Linked DNA regions of Homo sapiens. The protein of the gene in region 6 interacts with the protein of the main gene of each other region in a biochemical or structural test. Each region holds a gene or a part of one and is shown on either strand. Other genes may lie near its edges. The genes, in order: MAP1B, KIAA1191, PLD1, PREP, ENC1, SNCA and MEF2D.

The links.
Region 1: the proteins of SNCA (region 6) and MAP1B form a complex in vitro, tested with the Homo sapiens proteins (one study listed by BioGRID).
Region 2: the proteins of SNCA (region 6) and KIAA1191 form a complex in vitro, tested with the Homo sapiens proteins (one study listed by BioGRID).
Region 3: the proteins of SNCA (region 6) and PLD1 form a complex in vitro, tested with the Homo sapiens proteins (one study listed by BioGRID).
Region 4: the proteins of SNCA (region 6) and PREP form a complex in vitro, tested with the Homo sapiens proteins (one study listed by BioGRID).
Region 5: the proteins of SNCA (region 6) and ENC1 interact in a test that uses a peptide from one of them, tested with the Homo sapiens proteins (one large-scale study listed by BioGRID).
Region 7: the proteins of SNCA (region 6) and MEF2D form a complex in vitro, tested with the Homo sapiens proteins (one study listed by BioGRID).

Annotation. Positions count from the first base shown.
Region 1 is NC_000005.10:72,113,975-72,117,474, reverse strand, and holds part of MAP1B (microtubule-associated protein 1B), read right to left. Parts: intron 1,778-3,500; coding exon 1,676-1,777; intron 1-1,675. UniProt on the Homo sapiens protein: Facilitates tyrosination of alpha-tubulin in neuronal microtubules. Phosphorylated MAP1B is required for proper microtubule dynamics and plays a role in the cytoskeletal changes that accompany neuronal differentiation and neurite extension.
Region 2 is NC_000005.10:176,348,664-176,351,764, forward strand, and holds part of KIAA1191 (putative monooxygenase p33MONOX), read right to left. Parts: intron 2,075-3,101; coding exon 1,950-2,074; intron 1-1,949. UniProt on the Homo sapiens protein: Potential NADPH-dependent oxidoreductase. May be involved in the regulation of neuronal survival, differentiation and axonal outgrowth.
Region 3 is NC_000003.12:171,684,984-171,688,483, forward strand, and holds part of PLD1 (phospholipase D1), read right to left. Parts: intron 2,602-3,500; coding exon 2,388-2,601; intron 1,816-2,387; coding exon 1,702-1,815; intron 1-1,701. UniProt on the Homo sapiens protein: Function as phospholipase selective for phosphatidylcholine. Implicated as a critical step in numerous cellular pathways, including signal transduction, membrane trafficking, and the regulation of mitosis.
Region 4 is NC_000006.12:105,281,083-105,284,582, forward strand, and holds part of PREP (prolyl endopeptidase), read right to left. Parts: intron 1,501-3,500; coding exon 1,369-1,500; intron 821-1,368; coding exon 664-820; exon of another isoform or gene 1-663. UniProt on the Homo sapiens protein: Cleaves peptide bonds on the C-terminal side of prolyl residues within peptides that are up to approximately 30 amino acids long.
Region 5 is NC_000005.10:74,634,229-74,637,728, forward strand, and holds part of ENC1 (ectoderm-neural cortex protein 1), read right to left. Parts: intron 3,474-3,500; exon of another isoform or gene 3,266-3,473; intron 2,271-3,265; 5' UTR 2,258-2,270; coding exon 488-2,257; 3' UTR 456-487; intron 1-455. UniProt on the Homo sapiens protein: Actin-binding protein involved in the regulation of neuronal process formation and in differentiation of neural crest cells.
Region 6 is NC_000004.12:89,823,662-89,827,161, forward strand, and holds part of SNCA (alpha-synuclein), read right to left. Parts: intron 1-3,500. UniProt on the Homo sapiens protein: Neuronal protein that plays several roles in synaptic activity such as regulation of synaptic vesicle trafficking and subsequent neurotransmitter release.
Region 7 is NC_000001.11:156,494,276-156,497,775, forward strand, and holds part of MEF2D (myocyte-specific enhancer factor 2D), read right to left. Parts: exon of another isoform or gene 1,652-3,500; intron 1,487-1,651; exon of another isoform or gene 878-1,486; intron 1-877. UniProt on the Homo sapiens protein: Transcriptional activator which binds specifically to the MEF2 element, 5'-YTA[AT](4)TAR-3', found in numerous muscle-specific, growth factor- and stress-induced genes.

The DNA.
Region 1 (3,500 bases), on a different chromosome or scaffold from region 6:
AAGTCAGTCCAAATATGAATGAACACAATGAGAACCACATGACTTGTACACACAAAAAAAGAAGTCTTACAAACAATCATAGTAAAAAAGCCAGAACAACCTACAGAGAAAAAATAAAAGCTTGTAGTTTTTACATTTTGAAATAATCATACTTTTTGGAAAACAGCACTTCCCTCATTTTTTTTGTGAGATGGTTTTAAAAGATACGGAGATATCGCAAGACAAAAATACAATAAAATAACAACAAGAGAAACAACCTTATACTGTACCTTTCCTTCAGCAAATCATATGCTGTCTGACAGTCTCTGGATTCCTTTTTTCTCAAAGCAAAGTTACTTAAAAACTGATTTTTCATGTGGCTTTGCAGGAAGTTAACTTTTAATAAACCATTTCTTGCTAAGCTTTTCTTAGCACATTTACTCAATTCCATACTTGAAAGCTACAATGCATTTCAATAACTGAAATGTATGGGATTTTATTCTAATATTAAACTCAAAAGGAAGAACTGAGACAGTCCTATGGGCATATTACTGCAGCCAAATGTGATTCACGAAGGCACTGATATTCTATAAAAGTGATTTCAAATATCAATGTATATACACGACTAATGGAATATGACCTAACCAGTCAAAATAGGCTGAATCTCATTCCTGATGTTATATCAATGCCAATAAAATTAGGAATCATATAACAAAAGCATATGGGCAGAAAATAGCTTTCTCTTATGTAAAATTCAAGTGATGGTCAAGAAATAAGATGTAATACAGTGTTTCTGATGGGTCAATGGCAAAGGTCTGGAGAAATATATTCCAGGTTTGGAGTCTTTATGGGCCAGAAACTGTCTCATAATTCCTAAATGTGACCAAATGGGAGGAATATAGGTTATTGCTCACAAGAAGAAGACGAGATGGGTCAGTATGAATACATCTCCAGCGCCAGAGGCATGGGTCAGATCATAGCCCCAGGAAGGTGGCTGGTTAGTGGGAACATCTTCACATATGACAAATTTTTGCATCCTTACCTTTAATTATTCTTTGATATTCTTTTTCATCTCTGAAAAAAAGGCTATTTTAACAGAAGTTTGTAATATCAGATTCTTTTACCCACACGAAGAAAGATAAGTGGTAATGCAATGGCGGGTGATAATGCAATTATGAAATGATGATGTATATTTCATTTTGAAATGCAGTATATGTTTCCTTTTTCTTTTGCAGGAAGACAGTTCTGGGATCCTAGGAGCATCCAATTTGTATTCAGAATTTCATTTGAGTAAGATTAACATTTAAATAGTTTGTAGTCCCTTGAGCTCAGAGTACAGTGAGATACACATACACACACTATACTATCTCTCTCTCTTTCTCTCTCTCTCTTTCTCAAGCCCTGGATATCAATTCAAAATTTGTGTGATCATTGATGTGTGTGTGTGTATATATATACACATACACAACCCTAGAACTTAAAAACTCATTAAGAATCCACAAAATAGATAACCCACACAGTGATAACCTAGAGTGACTTCCTAAACTGTGGCTGCTGGCTAACCTAGTTGATAATAACAAATACAAAGTATCCTTTTAGCAATAAGAGAGTCTTTTTGCTGCCTCAGACAAAGCTTTCTAGCTTGCTCCTTGTCCTTTGGAATTCTAGGCTGACCAACACTGAGCGGAAGCCTCACCTGGGACTTCAGGAGAGAATCTTGCAGAGTGTCGAGATACAAAAAGTTTGAGTTCTTGGTCCAAGTTGCATTCAATCAGGTTTGTGTCCCATGATCGGATTCCTAGGGAGGGAAAGAAAGACAGTTGAGAGACTTCCAGTTAGTCATTTCAGAGTGGTTTGGACAACATCACTGTAATATTTCTCAGGCTTTCAGGGAGGATGTGGGAACTCCTTTTCTGAAGAGCTTGGTGGCTTAGCAGTGGATGCCCACAAAATGGGAGGGCCAGGGAGGTCTCTCCACCAGGCCACAAGGGAGGGATAATTAGCAGTGTGGACTGAGCTTCTGCCCCTCATAAAAAGTAAATGCACCTCTTCTGGAAGAGTCAAAGAAAACAGTTGTTAGGAAAATGACAGGCTGTACTCCAGGGAGGGACTAGAAAGGGCAGGAAGATGTTAGTTCTTAAGAAGCTAAGAGGCCAACAGACTAACTCTAGCTTGTAGACAGACTAACTCCACTTGTAGGTGGCAAGAAAATGTAGAATAAAGGCAAAGAAAATACACGGGGGCTGCCATTCAAGCACGGGCCTTTGTTTCTAAAATGATGTTCTGGTAGTATACATGTGTAATTTCTTTCCTTTACCAATCCCGTTTTTGACTTTGGTTTATCGAGCCCTGGATATCAATCCAAGATTTATGTGATCTTTGATAAACAGAGTGGATCCACTCAATCTTCAAGACTTGGCCTGTCTGTCCTTCCAGGCACTTTTCTGTTACCTGAGTAGCTTGGCAGGCAGCTCTTTTATTCACAATTGTTCATTGTATTCAATTTTCTTATCCAGAGGCAAAGAAAAATGGCAACTTTTTATACTTTATAAAACATTTATGGAGTTGGGGACATGAATCAGCTATTCCTACCCTAGGCTGAACGGAAAGGAAGTCCTATCAGACTTCCTTTCCCTAGGCTGAAAGGAATATCCAGGGTGAGAGGAACAGGAGGGCAAGAGGCGGGATGAGGGCAGCTTCCTGTGCTCATGCCCTACTCTCTAGCCTCTTCCTTCCTCCTCCCACTGTCCTCTTTCTCCTGCCCTCCCAAAGGGGATGGCCCAGAGGGAACCCCAGAGAGCATCATAGAAGGGAGGTCTGGAGAGTAAGCCAGGGAAAGTTGGGGAACCCCAGAACTCTGGTGTGTGTGTGTGTTTTACATGTTTACATATTATATATTACATTTTTCCTAATAGGTTGCTCATGGTGGAGCCAGTGTGTGGTATCCATCATTGTACCTTTGTATACAGCATTCTCAATTGCCAGGAACAAATCTCTAGAACAACAGACATTTATTGCATACCTCCTAAAGGTAAGGGCTTGAACCTCTAGGTATAACACAGCAGGTGAACTATCTCTAAATTAACACCCAGTCATGTAATCATTTTTGTTGGACATTAGTCATGTATACAGACTTGAAGGAATAAATAGCAGTGTGTTACTTAAATACACACTGGATCCTTAAGGCATATTTGTATTTACCCTTGGTTATATTGTATTCAGTCTTCCTATCCTGTAAAGAATCAAGGTGGATTATACATAGACATTACAAAAAAAAAAGATTCTGGAAACTCAGTTCACTGCACATCTAAAATATCTTTAGATTACACACCACAGACCTTTTCAACCAGGAGGAATATTTTCAAATAGATGTGTGTCCACTAAATACAGGCAGAAATTTCTCATATGATCAATGGGAAGAATTCAGATGTGGAAGAGTTAACGTGCTTAAGGAAAGGTCAAATTATAAGGGAGAATTTTATGGCTCTTCCTGGAAACATTAATAGCCTCAGTTTGCATTT
Region 2 (3,101 bases), on a different chromosome or scaffold from region 6:
AAGAGCCAGAACGCTAGCTGCCAGCCTTCTTGGCCTTTTAAGCAGGGCTTAAGCTCTTGTCTCGCTGCTGCTCCTACCATGTACAAAGCCCTGCCCATCCTCAGTCTCTCCAAGCCAATACTCAGGCATGCTGCTTCTCTCCAGCTAAATGCTTCCTCTGAGGAGCCTGTTCCATTCTCTCCTCCTTCTCTCCCATAGTCAGCCACTCTGGGTTCCCTCAGCACCGTGAGCATTCCTCTGACTCGCAGTCTAGTGGGGAGAGACAGGTCTACATCTCAGCTCTTCTAGAGCAAGGTTCCCATGCTGTTTCCTCCCTCCAGGCCTGCCACGCCACTGCTTAACCCAAGCTGCACACCAAACAATGATCACGTTTGAATTTTCTCAAACGCTCAACAGATCCATTCATGTAAGTTGACAATCTGTTACAAGATGTAAGTTACAGCTAATATTTCAGCCATCCTCATGTTCTACTCCTATGGGCAAGACACAGAAAGTGGGTCAACCAAAGTCAATCCTACCATTATATAAGGTGAATTGCTCAAATAGAATTCTCACTGACCTATCCTGGAAAGTTCTCAGTTAAGGGTCAAAGGCTGCCGGTGCCCCTCTCTGGAAGCTTCTGTCTTGTTTGAAAGCTTAAACTGGCCACCAGCCCAAACCTGATTTCCTATAGCAGTTTTTAAACCTAGCCTGCAAAAGAATCATCTGGAATGCTCATTACAAAATGCAAACAGGGCCGGGTGCGGTGGCTCATACATGTAATCCCAGCACTTTGGGAGGCCAAGGCAGGTGGATCACATGAAGTCAGGAGTTCAAGACCAGCCTGGCCAACATGGTGAAATCCCATCTCTACTAAAAATCAGCTGGGCATGGTGGCGCATGCCTGTAAATCCTAGCTATTTGGGAGGCTGAGTTGGGAGGATCACTTGAACCCGGGAGGCAGAGGTTGCAGTGAGCCGAGATCACAACACTGTACTCCAGCCTGGGTGACTGCAAACAGGCCACAGTTTTATATCCACAGTTTTATATCCCCACCCACAGGCCACCAGATCCGGGTTATTCCTCGTTATGTATAATGTATACCATGATTCTTTCCTGCGTCGTGTGCTCTCCTCACCTTGCCCTCATCATACCCTGTTCAGAACTCTTAAAATAAAGCTTGGAACAAGCCTGGATTCTGACCCCCCCTTGCCTAAAGAAGACAGCCCAAGTTTCTTAACTGTAATTGTGTCTCTTCACAATCTGCCCCTGACTTCCATATGAGCCCCTTCAGGAGCCAGATTTCCAGGCTGCTTTGGAATGAGGAGGAAGAAGCCAACAGGAAGTAAGGCATCAGGAGACTTGGGTTCGGGTACTATGACTGGCTGAATAGATGGCCTCGAACCTCAATCTCCTCATTTACAAAATATGGAGAAGAGCATCTGTCCCAAAAGGTGATTGTGAGGATGAAATGAATGCAAGTGCTTCACAATCATAAAACACTATCCAGTATGAAGCGGTCTTCACTGAAAGAAAGTCATTTGAAACTATTCATTCAAATACTTGGCTATCACTAAATTAACCCTTACCAAAATTCTTCACTTATAGAAATGAAATAGCAAAAACATTCCAATTCCACATTTGATTTTAACTTGTTCCTTTCCAGTTAAGCTGTTACCTCTGTTGAGGCTGCCCAGTTCTCCCCAAGATACTCCACATTTGCTTTATGATTCATAAAGTACTCCTATGTATATGTAAGCTGAGGCTCTCACTTGATTCTGCTAACCAGAAGTAGCAAAACAGACACCCCACTGTATAGGTGGATAAGCAAAAACTACGAGGCTAAGAGCTCGGGAGCGAGACTAACTCCACAGCCCCCAACTAACTGAGCTGGTAACTTCAAAACCACAGCCACATTTCAAGCCATGAACACTGAAGGTTTTGTTTTTTCAAAGTTCCTAAGAGCTTACGTGGAGTGCTTCGGCCACTCGAAGGTACTTGGTCTCCTCGGTGGTGAGGCCCTTGTGGGGTGTGTAGCCAGCATCTCTCAGCCCTGCCTGTCGCTCAAAATGCTGAATGCTTTCCTGGGTCTGTTCTGGGAACAGAGGAGATGACAGTCATGCCCATTCCCCTCTCCCATCACAAAATAAGGAGGACAACATGGATATCTACTATTCTCCCCAGAAGCAAGAGACCACACTGACCATTCAAAGAAGAGGAGACTTTCCCCAGAGAGGCACCACAGCAGTAATTCTGAACCTCACACAAAGGCTCTCTAGCCAGAAGGAAGCCTTCCCTCACACCAAGCTGAAGAGGTTATTCCTAAAGGGACAGCTGAAGAACCTTGAGGACAATACTCCCACCCTCCTCTTAGTTGTACATGGTGACATTTTCTTTGTATTTAGAAATGCAACATGGGGCTGGATGCAGTAGCTCACACCTGTAATCCCAGCACTTTGGGAGGTCAAGGCGGGCGGATCAAGAGGTCAGGACATCCAGACCATCCTGGCTAACAAGGTGAAACCCCATCTCTACTAAAAATACAAAAATTAGCTGGGTGTGGTGGCAGGCGCCTGTAGTCCCAGCTACTCGGGAGTCTGAGGCAGGAGAATGGCGTGAACCCGGGAGGCGGAGCTTGCAGTGAGTCGAGATCGTGCCACTGCACTCCAGCCTGGGCGACAGAGCAAGACTCCATCTCAAAAAAAAAAAAAAAGTTACATTGTGCTAAAAGAACAATGAATAAGTTTTGTAACACTGCTAGAACACATTCTCAAGCTTGTAAAATAAAAGTAGTGTTGCTGATTCAACAGATGTGAATAAGAAAATCAAAGTATAGGTGGTGCGTGATGGCTCACACCTGTAATCCCAGCACTTTGGTTGGCCTAGGCGGGCAGATCACGAGGTCAGGAGTTTGAGACCATCCTGCCCAACAGAGTGAAACCCCATCTCTACTAAAAATACAGAAATTAGCCAGGCGTGGTGGTGGGCGCCTGTAGTCCCAGCTACTCCAGAGGCTGAGGTGGGAGAATTGCTTGAACCTGGGAGGCGAAGGTTGTGGTGAGCTGAGACCACAGCATTGCACTCCAGCCTGGGTGACAGAGTGAGACTCTGTCTCAAAACAA
Region 3 (3,500 bases), on a different chromosome or scaffold from region 6:
GATTATTGCATTTTTTAAAATGCAGCGTAGCTGGACCAAGCTTGTCCAACCCACAGCCTGTGGGCCACATGCGGCCCGGGATGGCTTTGAATGTGGCCCAACACGAATTCACAAACTTTCTTAAACATTGTAATTTTTTTTTGCAACTTTTTTTAGCTCATCAGCTATCATTAGTGTTAGTATATTTTATGTGTGGCCCAAGACAATTCTTCTTCCAATGTGGTCCACGGAAGCCAAAAGATTGGACACCCCTGCCCTAGATGAAAGAATGCTGGGAATCATTACTCAAAGTCTAGCATAATTTTTCAGGTTCATTAGCACCTGCAAGCCACAGGTGACTCACATTCAGGCATGTGAGCTAGACTGTAACTCTCATCTGCTAAACAGGACATGAGAGCCCTGGCCTTAGGTTCTAGCCAAAAAAGCATAACATAGTAATCTTTATTTCTGCTAAATCACAGGTCTTAATTATGGGCACTGGGAGGATGATAAATTGGAACTCCATTGGGCAGGTCATGTATCATCTCTAACCCTGAGTTTCTTCATCTGTAAAAAGGAGATGACAATATCACTACCAAGCACTGCAACTACTCAGGGCAGTGATGGATAGAGTCTGTGCAAAATAAATGTTAGCTTATGATCTTACTAGTGTCATTTATTATGATGATTACTTATCCCCATATCTGACCAGCGGCCAAATCCTTCTTTATTCCCACCACAAGTTAAACTTATTAGTCATTCATTAATTCCTCGAGTATCTGGAGTATCTTCTTACCAAAGGCTATCAGATTGTAATTTCTGAAAATTCACACAGCATGACACATCCACCCAAAGGCCTTCAAGATTTTTAACTGGCCAGGAGCGGTGGCTCACACCTGTAATCCCAGCACTTTCGGAGGCCAAGGCAGACGGATCACTTGAGGTCAGGGGTTCAACACAAGCCTGGCCAACATGGCAAAACCCCATTTCTACTAAAAGTACAAAAATTAGCCAGGCACGGTCATGCACGCCTATAATCCCAGCTACTCAGGAGGCTGAGCTGAGGCAGGAGAATCGCTAAAACCTGGGAGGCGGAGGGTGCAGTGAGCCAAGACGGCCCTACTGCACTGCAGCCTGGGTGACAGAGCAAGACTCTATCTCAAAAAAAAAAAAAAAAAAAGATTTTTAACCAAATAAAATTCCAGCTCCCAAATGTGAATGTCATATATCTTCTTAGTCTTATATCAAAAACTGCATTTTAGCTAAATAATGCATTTTACACAATTTGAAAGCAGTTGGTGCTTTCCCATTCCAGCACCTTTGCTCAACTCACCTCCCTCACTTGCAATGACTTCCTATCACCTACCCCAATTAAATTACTTCCAGGCCTAACCCAAATGTCCCCTCCTCAAAAAGTCTTTCTGCATCATCAGAGAGGAATTCCTCCCTCCTTCCATAGAACTTCCATGACACTATTGAATTGCATGTGCCATGCATTTTCTCTTATTAGGTCTGTTTTGTCTTTGCTGCTATAAGTTCTTAGGGAGTAGGGATCTTGGATACTACAGAATGCTTTGCACAGAGCAGGCTCTCAATAATATACGTAGCATAAAAATTGCAAACAGAAAGCCAATCTGGAAACACATTCACTATGCCCATGCAGCAGACAACACAACCAAAGCTCAAGCCTAAGGGAGTTCTGCCACTTCACAAATTACTTACCAGCATGAGGTCTAGTGAGTCCTTGCTCAGACTCACTGGACGGGTGAAAGAGTTTGAAGTGGGGTTTTAAACCATGGATTAAATTGTGATGACTTCTATAGTGATTAAAATAACCTAGAGAAATTAAGAATTTTTTTACAAAAAAATACAAATATCAAATTTTCTAAACTGGAAAGCAAAGCTGATCATTTTTAAAACCAGGCAGGGCTATAACATCAGTCTTAAGATTCTGTGCAACAGAAAATTGTAGGGCTTTAAGATGGATTTCAAAGGAATAGTAAATTTACAAGATGTAGAAAGTCTGATGTTTGACGAAATAAGCTTGATATATTTCTGGATAGGAAGATAAATGTAATTTCTTCTAAGAAAAGTTTATAAAGTACATCTAATACCTTTTTCTTTTATGGCTTGGCATATTTTAGAAACCCTTTGTCATTCTGCTACCATTAGAAGTGGTAATCGTGGTCGTTATGACTTTTGTGTGGATAAAACAATAAATCTGTTCTAAAATGAGGCAAACAAAGCCACCAAATGGCATGAGGTTGAATAGAATGATATAGCGACCTCTCAACATTGCTCATTCTACTCCATTACAGAAAGACAGATTTTAAAAACAGGTATGTAGTGTCTGGCTATGGAAGAACAGTGGGTAGTTAAGATAAATTCTAGTCAAGGCCATGACTTACTGGAGGTGCTGTCAATGCTGCTGATGCTATCTGCGTCGTGCAGGTGGTGCCTGTGGAGCTGCTTGTAGAGACTAAATTTGGAGAACTTTCTTGGCTTTCCTATTCCTTTCAGTTTTGAATCCACATCATCAATACTCTTCTGGATGGGTAGGTTTTGAACAGGCTCATTTTTATCTTTGAGTCTTAAGGATTCCATAGACTCCATTGCGGCAGGCTGAGAAAAATTTTTTTTTAAAAAAAGACACTGCATAAGACATGCTGCAGTGTGGTTCTTTAATTCAAGTAGAGCTGAAGTATAAAGTTTACAAATGATGGAGGTTCTATAACAGACATGCAATAATGTCTGAGGTCAGCCACAGGGTAGTGGTGGATTCTTGTGAACTGTTTAAAAACTACCAAAGGAATATGAGGAGTTCTGCTATGGTCTTTTTTCAGTAGGCCAAATTCTTGAAATTTCACTCCAATTAAACTTTTAATCTCAAATACAATTACATGGGTTACATTCAGTGTTGAGCTCCTGAACTTGTTCCTCTAATAAACATTAAGTAAGCAAGGCTTCCTCTGTCAATCATTTTCCCTGTTCCTTATGCACTAAATTGCTATTTTTGCATAAGTTTTGCACTATTTTCCAGCAGTAAATAAGATGAAGCCCATCAAATTTTTTAATAAGTGTATTCATATTCTGGCAGCCATTTAGTTGAAATAGCAAGCAGATTGATATACACTTTTTTTAATAAGTGTATTCATATTCTGGCAGCCATTTAGTTGAAATAGCAAGCAGATTGATATACACATACAGATATTTTGGCAGCTCTATTTAAAAGGCACTTTGGGAAGTTATTCACTTCTGGCTCAAATTCCCTCTAAATGACCCCAGACTGACCTATCCTGTTTTTGTATATCTTTAAGTAGGAACTTTCCAAAAACTGTGGCAGATACTTAAGGCTTTTTACTACCTAAATCTCAATTGCCACATATTTTTGTTTATGAATCTTATTTCTGAATAAAAAATAAATCTTAATTAAAATGGAAAACAAAGCTGAATATGGGACAGCCAAAATTCCACTGAATCTGTTTTCTTTTCTTACAAGAGAAGAACAGACTCAGCAATGC
Region 4 (3,500 bases), on a different chromosome or scaffold from region 6:
TGCTCTGGGTCTTCCAAGGTCAAAGAAGGTCAAAGTCAAGGTGTTGGCTGGTTGGACTCTTACGGGGAAACTCTGGAAAAAACCTACTTGCAGTCTCGGGATGTTGGCAGAATTTAGTTTTGTGCGGCTGTGGGACTTAGGTCCTGTTTCCTTGATGGCTATTGGTTGGGGGTTGCTCTCAGGTTCTAGAGGTCCCCCTTCCTCCATTGTCAAAACCAGCAATGGCAGGCTGAATCCTTTACAAGCTTCCAATTTCTCTGACCTCCCTTTCTGCTGCATCCCTGACTCCAGCCAGAGAATGTGCTCAGCCTTTAAGGGTTTATGTGATTTGGGACCCCTCAAGAGATAATCCAAAGAGCAGCAGATGAATATCCTGCTCCCTGACAGCAAGCAGTATCTAGGTAAGTGTTTGAATAACCAGGGTAGGAATCTTGGGAGGCCATCTGTAGAATTCTGCCCTACCACATTTTTTGTAGTTTGTTGCTTTTGTTCAAGACCATATTAAATCAAGAAAGACAAGTAGGTAGTCCCATCTCCTCTCCAGCAGATTATATGCAAATGCAAGACCCTGACAGTGACAAAGCTCAAGCACTAATCCTGCTGTGACTGTGTTCAACTTTATATCAAACCACTAACAACATATATATGTCAATAAAACCTTACTTGACAAGCCATTCAAAGTGTTGTTTGCTGTCCGAGCACCCATAATCAGTGGTCCAAGCATGGCCGATGGTATATTTATGAAACTTCAGCATGTCCATTACTCCAACTTGGGCAATAACACAACCAAAGAGGTCAGGTCTCTGATTTGCACAAGCAGCTAAAAGCCCAACGTAGAAAGAAAAGGGAGGCAGTCTATCATTAAACATCTACATAAACAAGGCAAGGCAATACTTACTTACATGCTTCCAGAGCCCTGGTTGCATTTATCCAGAGCACAAGAGGAAACCATCAGAAATCACCTGCCCAATAGCCCCAAAGCTCCCCACCCACTCTGAGATCTGTCAGAGGGGGTGGGGATTCTCATCAGTAATGGAGCTTTACTCCCCAAAGTGAATCTTGAAAAGCTTGAGGACTTTCTGGAAACCCTGTATCCCCTCCTCCCATCCCCACTTGCTTTCACAGTGATGAGGGAGATTAAGGGACTTGTTCAAGATCTCAGGACCTGCCCAAGGCAAAATAAATAGGGTCTCTTCGTATGTCATTTATCAGATACCCAAATACAAATGGTACAAATGGGTTTTGCTCTCCTTATACCACTTTGTGGTCCTATCCACAAAGTTAAGTCAAGAGCTGCCTACAGATGGTGTATCTGAAAACCCCAAGAGGGCTAACTAGTAAGTGCAATGAATAAAATCCAGTACTCACCCACTAAGAGGCCTCCATTTGAACCTCCATTAATAGTCAGCCTCTTGGGAGATGTGTAACCTTCCTTGATCAGATACTCAGCAGCACACTGAAAGTCATCAAAGCAGTTTTGTTTGTTGGCCAAGATACCACCTACAGTGTGCCAAAGTGGAAGATAGTTAATTAACAAAACATAAAAATAAGTTTAATCTAATGGGAATTCAAATGATAGAGCACGGTTTCAAATACTGATTAACTTAAAAACCATGGGTTAACACTGCATTTAAAAAAAAGCCTCAATTTAAGTTCTGTTATGCACTGTGGAAATATATCATCAATACCACAATGCTAATCCATATGGTGGATCTGTATTTTTCTAAAAGCCTCTAGAACTTAAACGGGAAATGCCCCAAAGGGAACAGATGGTCGGTTATGAGAGATGTATGATAATGAAAGGATAGAAGCATGGCATCACAAGGAACCTGTATTTTGGGAAGCTGAACTTACAAATATAAAGCAAGACCTGCAGCAGTGTTTAGTCCTCTAGGTTGCACCCAGCACCCGAGCCGGAGCTGGCTGTGGGAGTGCTCGTGTCTCCCCTCCCCGCGAAGACGGAGGTGGAAGCGCTCTGCAGAGGCACGCTTCCCACCCCACCTCTGCAGGAGTCTGACATGGTCGGTGATGGGGAGAAAGAAATTCCCCAGTCTTGCCCTCGGTTATTAATGGAAAGAACAAAAGGAATTGGGTGGTGAGGTAGCGTTGCGGCAGAGCATCACATTATGTTTTCTCAATTCCAGAATGAAAGATCTTCAACGTTTCCCCAGAGAATCTGGGCTTTATCATCTGCAAATCGTTCCAGTGTATTAAACCAAACAAATTACTTGGAGAAACATTTACAGGGCCATGAAATATCTATAAGTAAAGGCCAAAAGTCAAAAGCATGTCCTCAAAGGAACAGATGTCTGAAATAACGGCCTTTGAAATGAACAAAGAGCAGACACAGATCTAATTAGATACTTGAGATTAACCACTTCTGCTGAAATTTAATTAAAGATAAAGCAGTCCTACTGAAATGTTTTTCATATCAAAACAAATGTTATTAAGATTTCAGTAAGAAATTACCAGTGAATTTAGAACAGCTAGGATTACTTAGTTACTAGGAATAACAATATTTTGGGTATATGACTACATTTTAAAAAGAGCATTAAATTTTAAAGTCAATTAACAGAATGGAATTTAGATTTACCAGTGTATCATATCCTAGGCTATAACTGGAAAAGGTCTATTTCTGGTCCTTTCATCATGGCCTAAATTTTGAGGAAGTTTATAAATCAGTCTAAACATAGTCTACTGTTAGCCTTAGTCAATCTTGAACCTGCCTAATCCCAAGACTGGAAAATAACTTGGTTCTAACTAATAAAAAATGAGAGAGCAGACTAGGACCAAATTACTCTTCCCTCTCAGAGCATGGTGGACATCTGATGACCAGAGGGGTTTTCTGGAGAATAATCCAGTTATTTCAGGAGAGGATCCCAGGATCAGGGGACCATGAGTAGGGGGTATGGTGCATAAACTACATACAATTTAAATAGGAAATCAGGTGAGTCAAGGGGTTCAGAATTAGCATACATATTTGGGATCAAACATATGGTATACAGAAATTTTATCCTCTTATCACTCATCTTTTAATATCAGTTTCACAGTATGATTTTAGTGTAAACTCTAATATCAGCTCAAAATTATGCAATGAATTCTTTGCAGTTTCAAAGACAGTCACAATCAGTAGTTTCTGGGGATGATAACTGGCAACGATGGACCAGATGGCCGGCCAGGGGCACTCACTTTCACTAAGGTGCACTTGAGGAGTCTGCTGTCAGCCCCTGGGGTGCATGCTGGATGCCCGGGGGTCATTTCTAAGCCTTTCCTGCATATGGTACCTAACAGGTACTTAATGGAAATCTCTTTACAACAGGTTTACCCTCATGTTCGCTGATTTGATTTGATGCAAAAAAAATCCAGAGCCTCAGGCCTCTGGTTTGGGATGGCATGGGAAACAGAAGAGAGGTACAGATATCTTAAGGGTGGTCTCTGATGCTGAGGAGACCCCTCTCACCTGGAGCTGCTGACCAGCCCCAAGCACTGGGGTCCTGGTA
Region 5 (3,500 bases), on a different chromosome or scaffold from region 6:
TGGTGAAACCCCGTCTCTACTAAAAATACAAAAAATTAGCTAGGCCTGGTGGTGGGCGCCTGTATCCCAGCTATTCGGGAGGCTGAGGCAGGAGAATGGTGTGAACCCAGGAGGCGGAGCTTGCAGTGAGCCAAGATCATGCCACTGCACTCTAGCCTGGGTGACAGAGCGAGACTCTGTCTCAAATAATAATAATAATAATAAAATAAATAAAAAGCTCTTCAGGAGATTCTGAGGCTCAGTAAAAGCTGAGAACCACTGGCTAATGCCATGGTGGGGGCTGAGGCTGTGGTCAACACAAGTGGATAAGTTCTAGGGGCACCAGCTCTCTTATTTTTACAGCTTTGGTAGTACTTCTGCAGTACAGTCTCTGTGGATCAGATCTCACCCCATGTACTGAACTTACACAATAGCCTAATTATATGCATACTTACATCTATAGCTAAACTTCTTACCTCATGCTCACTCTCTTTAGAATGTACTGCATTTAAGAAGGCAGATGTTTCCAGGTGCTGACAAATGCAGTAGGAATCAGCGAGTACGGGACAGTGGTGATGCTGTTCCACACGTCTAATGTTGGATCGTAGCAGTCCAAAGTCTTGCATCGCTGAATGCCAAAGTATCCTCCAACCACGTAGAGTTTGTTTCCAGAGGCCACAGCATGGCAGCTCATGCGCTTTGCTGTCACATCTCCCACCTTGGTCCACTGGTAAGTCTCACTGTTGAATTTATAAGCAGAGCAGGCAGAGAATTCTGTATCACCCCCCATAATAAAAATCTGGTTCCCCAGCACAGCTGCTGCTGTGTAACGCCAGGGCTGGGGACAGGTGGCCGGTACAGTCCACCTGTTTTCACACTGATCGTAACACTGAACTTTGGGGAGCTTGTCATGACTGACACTGGTACCTCCGAAAGCAAATAACTTAAGTTTGGCACTCACTACTGCGGCGTTGCTAACGCCTTCTCGGAGTGGGGCCACCATGGTCCATTTGTTGATTGTGGGGTCATAATGTTCTACCTGCTTTAGAGAGACTGAGGGGGAGGCCGGGAGGCAGCCAGTTGCGGCCGTGTGCCCCCCAACCACATACAGGCAGTGCTTCAGTTCAGCAGAGCCATGGCCAAACCTGGCCACCAGCATGGGGGCAGCCTTGGACCACTCCTCGTGCAGGGTATCATAAACCCAGACATCTTTTGAGACCCCATTTTCAGACCCCCGCCCCCCAGTAATGTACACTTTGCAGCCAATCGCACATGCACTAAACTCTTTTCTTGGGCTGGGAATGTCAGCCTTGGGAATGATTTCTTTGGCCTTCTGGTCTACCAGATACAACTTGTCACACATGAAAGTCTGTCCTCCCAGAAGGAAGAGGGCATGGCCAGTTTTCCGAGGTCGGGCACAGAGGCTGGTTACCACACCGTCATTCTGCAGGATTTTCAGTTTGCACCTGATGGCCTCTTCCACAATTTCCTTACTCTTTCTCTGCTTGGTGATGAGTTCCTCCATGGCCACATTCTCCATGAGATAGATGGCTGGCAGAAGTGCCAGCCTTACTGTCTGCAACAGTTCTGGGAGGTAGCAATAGCGCTTCTTCAGGTCATAGCTGATCCAGTTAATTGCAGACTCGTACACAAGCCTTTCATCCTCTGTCTCCAGCTCTTCACTGGACAAGAGTTGCACTACCATGTCCTGGGGCAGCTGGAGGAAATCTTCATTCTTCCTGATGGTTTGGAAGTTGCTGAGACACATTCTCCAAGATAGTTCGTACAGCTTGGTGCACTGGTGTGCATCAGACAGCAGCAGCATGCCCAGGCAGTTGGTGGGATGCAGGTTCTTTTCCAGGAACTCTGCACATGCATCCCGGATGTCTTGAAACTCCAGCATGTCACCAGCTTCCAGGAGCGATTCTGCATTTTCTTCATTGATGATGACCCGGGAGGAGTACGCATAGTCAAGCAGCAGCTCCAAGACTTCTGGGTGGATGGAATTGTCAAAGTTGACCTCACTGTCCTGGCTCTCTTTCAGGCCACCACTGAACATGGCCTCAAAGTAGCGACTGCATGCAGCCAGCACTGCCCGGTGGCAAGGGAAGGTCCTATTTCCGGCATGGAGAAGGACGTCAGTGAAGAGACGCTGCTGGCGTAAAAGATTCAGGTGAGTGAGGACGCTGTCAGCGTAGGAGGACTTGTGAAACAGATAGATGTTAATGGAGCCGCTGCTGGCCCTGGACTTGCGGTTCTCATGCACACTGACTGACATTTTGTTTCCACTCCTAAAAATAATAATAATAATAAATTGAAAATGATGCTCCTGATGTTCAGAACAGCAGAACGAAAGCAACAATGGTTTTGCACAAAAAACAGAACACTTTGTTGTTGACCATGCCACCTACTATTCTAGAATAGTGTATGGCCATTCCAGGACAAAGCCAGAGACAACTACCCGGAAGGAAGGATATTCACTGCTAATACTGTTGAGCTATTTGAACTCTGCACTGTTTAAAAAAAAAAAAAAAATCACTGCATAAAAAGCAGGTTCATCTTGGAAAACCTGATTGCCAACTTTCAGGCCATCGAAGTCTTTTAGAATATAAGTCAGCAAAAGCCAAGAGGAGTGAGTCTCATTCCCACAGCTCCCTGTCCTAGTCCAGCTCATTCACTGCGGGCCACTTAAAATGCCAGGTCTCCTGCTCTTATAATGCCAGGATGGGCACTGGCTTTCATGCCCCATGCAACATAAAGCCATGCGTAAAACAAACACCTAATAATTAATTCCATTAAGAATTCCTTTGGTAAGATCCAATCTCCCAGCACATACAGTAAATGGGAAATGTAAGGCCAACTTCTGCAATGATCAGACCTTTATTTAAATGTTACAGATAATGTATTTCATTTTATATATACTTTTGAGACCAAGTCTCGCTCTGTCACCCTGGCTTGAGTGCAGTGGTGCAATCACAGTTCACTGCAGCCTCGAACTCCTGGACTTAAGTGATCCTCCTGCCTTGGCCTTCCGAGTAGCTGGCACTAAAGGTGTGCACCACCAAACCCAGATAATTTTTTGTATTTTTTGTAGAGACCGGGTCTCAAACTCCTGGCCTCACCTGATCCTCCCACCTCGGCATCCCAACTTAAAGATTAATTTCTAACCAGACAGCTCTACCACTGAAGAGTCCTAAAAGCACCCCAATTTCAACATTAACCATATATTGATCAGCAAGCCTTTAGTCAAAGCACAGAATAAATTCTGGCCATAATCACCAACTACCTGTCTTGCTCGGGACAGCTTCCAATGTGAGGATTTGGCACATAAAAAGAAGAATATTTTGAGTAGCATACTTATGACTGCTGTTTTCTGTTCTTCCCGCTTTATATCAATTCTTGGAAAACCAGCTGCAAGAACAAAAGATCCATCCGTCTTTTGATTAAATAGTGCATCACTAGGACTGTTCCTGTATACCTGCAAATGCTGACACCTGCATAGAAGGAGTTCAAAATGCAAA
Region 6 (3,500 bases):
GACATGCTTTGTACTCCCCAGATAAGCCTCAGTCTGAGAGGAGTTACACCATGTCAGCTGTTTAGTGCTATTCACATGACTATTGTATAGGTTTCATCTCACCAGTTGAAGAAGCCAATATTTACTTATTTATTTATTTATTTATTTATTTTGAGACGGAGTCTTGCTCTGTCACCCAGGCTGGAGTGCAGTGGCACGATGTCGGCTCACTGCAAACTCCGACTCCCGGGTTCAGGCCATTCTCCTGCCTCAGCCTCCCCAGCAGCTGGGACTACAGGTGCGCGCCACCACACCCGGCTAATTTTTTTATATTTTTAGTAGAGACAGGGTTTCACCGTGTTAGCCAGGATGGTCTCGATCTCCTGACCTCGTGATCTGCCCGCCTCAGCCTCCCAAAGTGCTGGGATAACAGGCGTGAGCCACCGCGCCTGGCCTGAAGCCAATATTTAAATGGTGTGGACAAAGCAATTTGTTTTCAAATAGACTATGTAAGCTAAGGGGGTCTGTAAGGACAAGAGGCTTTCTCCTTAGTACAGGCAATGTGGGCAAGCCTGACATAGCCACACAGCCCAAGACCAGAAACGGTCCACAGTAGTGTTGCTCCCTATTTGTCTTTTAGGCTAGAATTTTGTACAACTACCTAACAACTCCGTGCCACTTCTAAGGATATGGCTGATGTCTCCTTAAGAGCAAGAGCTATTTACAATTCAAAGTTCGATTTAAATGCCAGCGAAAAGCTGTACTGAAAATCTTATGTTTTAAAACATTTCTGAAATGTTGATCCTTTAAAAATAGTCAATTATGTGTTTCAAGTTGTCATTTTTTTCCTTTTCAAGGACGTGAATTGAAAATTTTGCTTGAAACGAACATTTTCTTGTTATAAAATCTCAAAGCGAGATTAAAAATAGGTTTTGAATTTTTTACAGATCCAGCCATAAATTTTATAATATCTAGATAGCCTTTTATATATGTATAAATTTTAATCTAGTTTTAATGCAATACACTGCACAGTAAAATGTACTCTACACATTATTATAATTTTGTTGTTTTATTATTATAATCATAAATAAAATGGCTACATTACAAAATGACAGAGTGTACATGTAGCAATAATCGACACATTTAAAAACATTTCTGTAGAACTGATTTCTCTAGTAGGGTCTCTGCTGACCTTTAACCTCTATTTTTCCCCTTGAGGGCCTTTCACACTATCTCTCTACTCACTGACATTCCAAATGACGGGTGACAAAACAAAAGGAAAAGAGACACACTCATATTAGTACATTTTGGGTCTAATAAATGGTAACTGTTTTTCGGCAATTGAGTTCTTTGAAATCAGGGATTCTGCTTTATTTTTCTTTATATTATTTCATAGTAGATAATAAATAATTTAGAATATACTAAAATGAATTTAGTGTCTACCTCTAATGTCTGCATTAATATAAATAATAGGTTTATATTTGACTTTAGCTACTTTAAAAATAAAATTCCAAAAAGGAAATGTGATACCAACTTTTAGAATAGATATAGCCAAATCTAACCTTTGACATTAAACAAAATTATAAAATTAATATATGGTTTTGAATTGTTATACAAGTAAATATGTATATTTAAATATACATATGTAAATATGGATTTAAAGAAAATAAATTTGAAACAATTTACTAAGGAAATTTAAATCATAATATGTTGAAAATTAGTTTTGTTCATTATGATGTAATAAATTTATAAGAATCAAAACCTTCAGAAAATCTCCAGTGTTAGAAATTTCTTTATACTATACTTGCATGAAAAATAGGTAACTTTATATCATAGTTTATTTTTAAAGTACCTGAAAAAACATATCATTCAGTAAGTTTAATTAAACACATTTTCATATATTTCTATAATATGATGCATTAAGTTGATAACTGAAATAATTTCCTGAGATCAAACAGCCAGGATTTAAGTTGGTGGATTTTTCATTGATATTATCTAACTAGGATAATTTATTTTATTTGAACTTTGTAGGTAGAAAGTTCCCAGCCCAAGTTTACTGAAGTCTGTATTTCTCCCCTGCCCCACCGAAAAAAAAAAAGCTAATGGGATGAATTTAGGGGAAATTGTTTCTTTAATATTAGAAGATAATATTAGGTACTATGTAATAATTTCTTGTTTCCCTGCATTAAGACTTGTAGCAAGAACAATTAACAATTAGTTAGCACTTAATATGTACCCATAATAAACATTTTACATCAGGCATAATATGCAAATTATTCTCCCTCTCTTTAACCATTGAAGTGTAATTATCTTATTTCTTCTCATAATTAGACTTAAGCACTTTATATTAAATAACCCTATTCAAAAAGTTAATTCATTTATCTGATGTGGGAGAGGAATGATTATGATAGCAGCCGATTTATCCCAATGTGTTTCTCATAGCCATACTAGTTATGACAGCATTTTTGGTTATTTCACTACTGCCAGGGTGGTCCATGGGTGCAATCGCTGTAAATATTGCACATGCTGAAATCACCATGTCCTTACTGCCTAGCAACATTTCCCATAGTTTTCTGTGGAACACTAGTTTCATTCAACCCTAGTAACTAATGAAGAAAGTTTTCAATAATCAAAAAGTTTGAATAACCCTGATTTTAACTATGTAATGCAAATTTCTTTACTGTAGGACATCTCAGATTCCTTAATACGCTAAAGAGAAAATAAAGTATACAAAGTCTCCCAACATTGTACAATGTTAGAAACTTAAGATTGTGAGCCACTGTCCTTCAGAAAACATTTTATAAAATGTCTAATTGTACAAACTTCAGTCTCTCTCTCTCTCTCACACACACGCACACACACACACACACACACACACACACAGATATGTGTTTACATTTTGGCATTCTGGAAAAGACTAAAAAAATGCAGCCCATCTCCACAGTCTCCATTAGATCATCAGGTGACAGTAATAGTTGGGTTCTTTAATTTTTACCACTGACTCCAGAACTTGCCACATGCTTGTCTGCTTTCTAAACCTCATGGGTTCTTCCTCAACTACTAAATGGAACACCATTCATCTAGGTTGACCGTCTTCAGATAGTGGAGTCTCCACCTGTCTGTTATCTAGTTCTTATTATAATCATGCTTCACAATATCATATTTATAGGAGGTCCCTAGAAGGCATCATAGTCCACTTACTTAACTACTTCTCTGTTGGATTGCAACAGAGCCCATTAAAGGTGCACAATTAACTTCTAACAGAACTAGTTTCAAAGGAGTCTGTTTTATTTTTACACTCTGATTTTTAAATCAAAAGTATTCATTTAAAGAAATATTTTTCTCCACTAGTTGTAAAAATGTTGCACAAGAAAGTTCACTATAAAACTATAAGTAACACTTATAAAATACATATTGTTTGCTTTTGTTTTCCAGATGTTTTGTGTACATTAATTCACTGAATTATTTTATAGATGAGGAAGCTAAATCACACAGAGGTGAAGAATCTTGCAAAAAACACA
Region 7 (3,500 bases), on a different chromosome or scaffold from region 6:
GCCTGCCGTGCATTTCTACTTGAAACTCAGGGATGGGCTCTCCCCGTATTCTTTGTTCTCTCAACCCTCAACCCTAGGTATTTGCTGGTGGGCTGAGGATGAGAGAATCACGAGGGATAAGCAAGCATGCAGCCAGAGGGATCTGGCAAGACTCGTGGGGCTAAGTGTGGAGGAGGCAGGTTCTGAGACAAGGAGACGGCTGGATGGGGAGGGGAGGGCTGGGCTCAGCTTCCCAACCCATCCCAGGGCCAAACGGAGCCCTAGGCCAGGAGGAACCCTCAAGGCCTCCTCAATCCCTACCCTGGACACCAAAGGCATTCCTTGCCCCCACCCCTGCTTCTGGGTAGCTGCCTTAGCAGGCCAGTCCTGGGCCAGGCTGGGGCTGAAGGTCTGAGAGAAAAGATGCAACCATCACACTTTTTCTGGCGGAAACTCCTTCCCTTCCCATGTGAGGCAGGTAGCACCACCTCCCTTTCACAGGTATGGAAACTCACACAGAGATGGGCAGGGACTTCCTCAAGGTCACCAGAAATAAGGGGCAGAGGCAGACTGACTGTTGGGCACAGGGCTTCTGCTTACAACCTGGATGGGAGTGGGAGGGAGTCTCCCTCCACCGGGGAGTTCTAGCACATTCCTTCCAGGGCCCATTCCCCAGGTCTGGGCCTGGGAGGCTCACATTGGCCTTGTGTCTGCCTTGAGACAAGCCCAGCCTCTTGTGGTCCAAGCCTTCCCACTCTAGTGTCTCTTCTCATTCATCCCATGCGGCAGCTCACAGGGACAGCAGGAGGGGTCTCGGAGTGTCATTTGTTCCTGCCCTCACACCCTTGCTTTGGGGGCTTTCTCCATGACACTCAAGTCAAAACAATACCCTCCTCACCTTGCCACCAAAGGCTGATTCTCTGCCCTCTGCTGAGGAATCCTGGTTTTCTCTTCCCTTCAATTTCTCCTCCTCCTCTCAGGTCTCCGTGGGCCTCCTTTCCATTGCCCCGTCCTGCAGGGCAGGATCTCTCCTTTAATCTCAGACAAAAGCCCTTTATACTTCATAACTAGGAAAGCTTAAAAGTCACTTACATCTCTGAGACTCAGTTTCCCAATTCAAAAAAACAGTTTTAGAGAGAAACAGTCTTCTTATATTCCCATGCTCAGTACAAAGCTTGGCACACAGGAACATAAGAAATGGAAGTTTCCTTCCTCCCTTTTGAGAACCCATCACCTCTCTTCATTGGGATCTCAAAAGTTTTGGTTTTTGGGCGGGGCACGATGGCTCACACCTGGAGTCCCAGCTACCTGGAAGGCTGAGGCCGGAGGATCGCTTGAATGGGAGGCTGCAGTGAGCCATGATGGCACCACTGCACTCGAGCCTGGACAACAGAGCAAGATCCTACCTCAAAAAAAATTAAAAAGTTGTGGTTTTTGGTCTTCAAAGTATACTGGAAAGTTGGGCAAGAGGGGTAATGCTGAGGGTAAAGCTCCTTTGACCAGGGGGCAAAAAAAAAAAAAAAAGCTCCCTCTGCATGGTTTCCTCGTCTGCTCAGCTCCTAGGAGAGTGGCCACAGCATCCAGCCAGAGGCACCAAGCCAAGGTCAGTGACCAGGCCTAGAGCCCAGAGCCTCCTGGGAGGGTAAGTTTAAATGAGTAAATATGGTCCCACCTGGGTGTGGCCAGCGACAGGCCAGAGCTTCGGACATGTCCCTCCCCTCCCAGCCTACAGCAGAAAGAAAAGAAGTCAGACAGGCACAAGTGCCTCCCGCCCCCTTGGCTATCAGGGTCCTGTGCAGAATCAATGAATGCATTCCCCTGTCTCCACACCAGCCAGGACTAACCAGAAGCATAACTTGGCTCTCAGGAAAGAGAGGCTTGTAGCCTCAGCCTCAGGAAAAGGAAAATGTCAGATGAAGAGGGCCTTGGGGATCACCTAGGCCAAGGATCTACCCCCAGATGCCTGATGGCTTAGATGTAGTCTTGATGCCTCACAGTGGCCTTGCTCATCAGGGTGAGCGGGGAGGGCAACAGAGACCAGCGACAAACCACCAAAACACCCAGGTGTTAATCACCGAAAGGCGAAACTCTGTACATCTGGAAAGCTGGGGCCCAAGAGGAGGGACCCGGGGACACACGGTCAGTGTGAGGGGCAGAGGCAGGCTGTGCCAGGAACACAGAGAGGGGCACGTGGGGGAGGGGTAAGGGGCAGGGATGGAAGTCAGCCAAGGCTCCTTGACTCACAAGCCATGCTCTTTATTTTGCAGACAGGGCTCTGCCTGCCCATCTGTGGTCTAACCTTAATCCCTCCTGCTCCAGTCAGCCCTTCTCTCTTCAAAGTTCTTGCTATGCCCTTCGCCTTCTTGCCTCCGGTCCCCTCAACCCCATCCCAACTCTCCAATCCTTTAATCATCTTTGCCATTCACTACCCCCCACCTCCCGCAGTGCAGCAGCTGCTCTGTGGGTGTCTACATACCAGTGTGTATGTGTTGCACACTTTCCTGCATGTGTACCACTAAATGCTGTGGACTGCATTGGGCATGCCTGTCTACATGAGACCCTTATCTAGCTCCCACTACTGGGGGAAAGGGGCCTAATGGCTATTTCTCCCACAGCTCCAGGACAAACGCCTCAGAATACTTTCAGCCATAAGCAGGGAGAGGAAAAAGAAGATAAATATTCCGAGATCCAAATAGCACCGACCCCACCAAGCCAAAGGTCAAGGCCTTTCCTTTCGGGAGAGCCACTGGAAAAGAAAGTGCTTTGAGTTCCCCTCCTTTCCTATGCAAAATTAGAGCCATCTCTCTCCCCCCCAGCTTCCCCACTGGGAAGTTCTTCCTGAAGTCTAAGCTCCATCCTACCTGCTGTGATCATGGATAGACAGAGTGACATCGACCACAATACAGTCAGACGTCCAGCTTCTAGAACACAGCTTCTAGTACCTAACCGCCCCTCCCTCCATGAGTAAGTCACCAAACTGGGACAGAAGGACAGACAGTTGGCCGGACTCCGGCCCCATGACTGGCTCATAAAAGCCACCAGCAATTACAGTGATGCTGAGGTTGTGCCGGCCTGCCACCATTTCCTCCTTCTCTATAAAAAAGAGATAGTTGCCTCAAACCAGCTGGCCTGAGAGAGCCTCGAGAGTCCCAGCCATGGTCCCGTGGGATGGGGAGAATCCCAGCACCACAGTGCCATGAGACTCAGAACCTGACCCTTGATGATGGGTTCCAGGCTCACATCGGATCCTCATACCCACTTATAGAACCTGATGAACACCAACGATGACCTGTGTCCAAGAGGTCAAGGCCTGTATTAAGTCAAGGCCCTCAACTCCTCTTTTCCAGTAAGGCCACCACTCTCTCGACTAGAGGGGCAAAGAAGCAGGGGGCCTGACTCAAATAGAACTAGGGAAATGTTGGGCCCACCCACTTGCTCCTGGACTTCCCTTGTCCCCATAAAGGTACTCAGGTGTGTGGCAAAGTGTCCAACCAAGGGCCCACACCAGGCCAGCGTAAGTC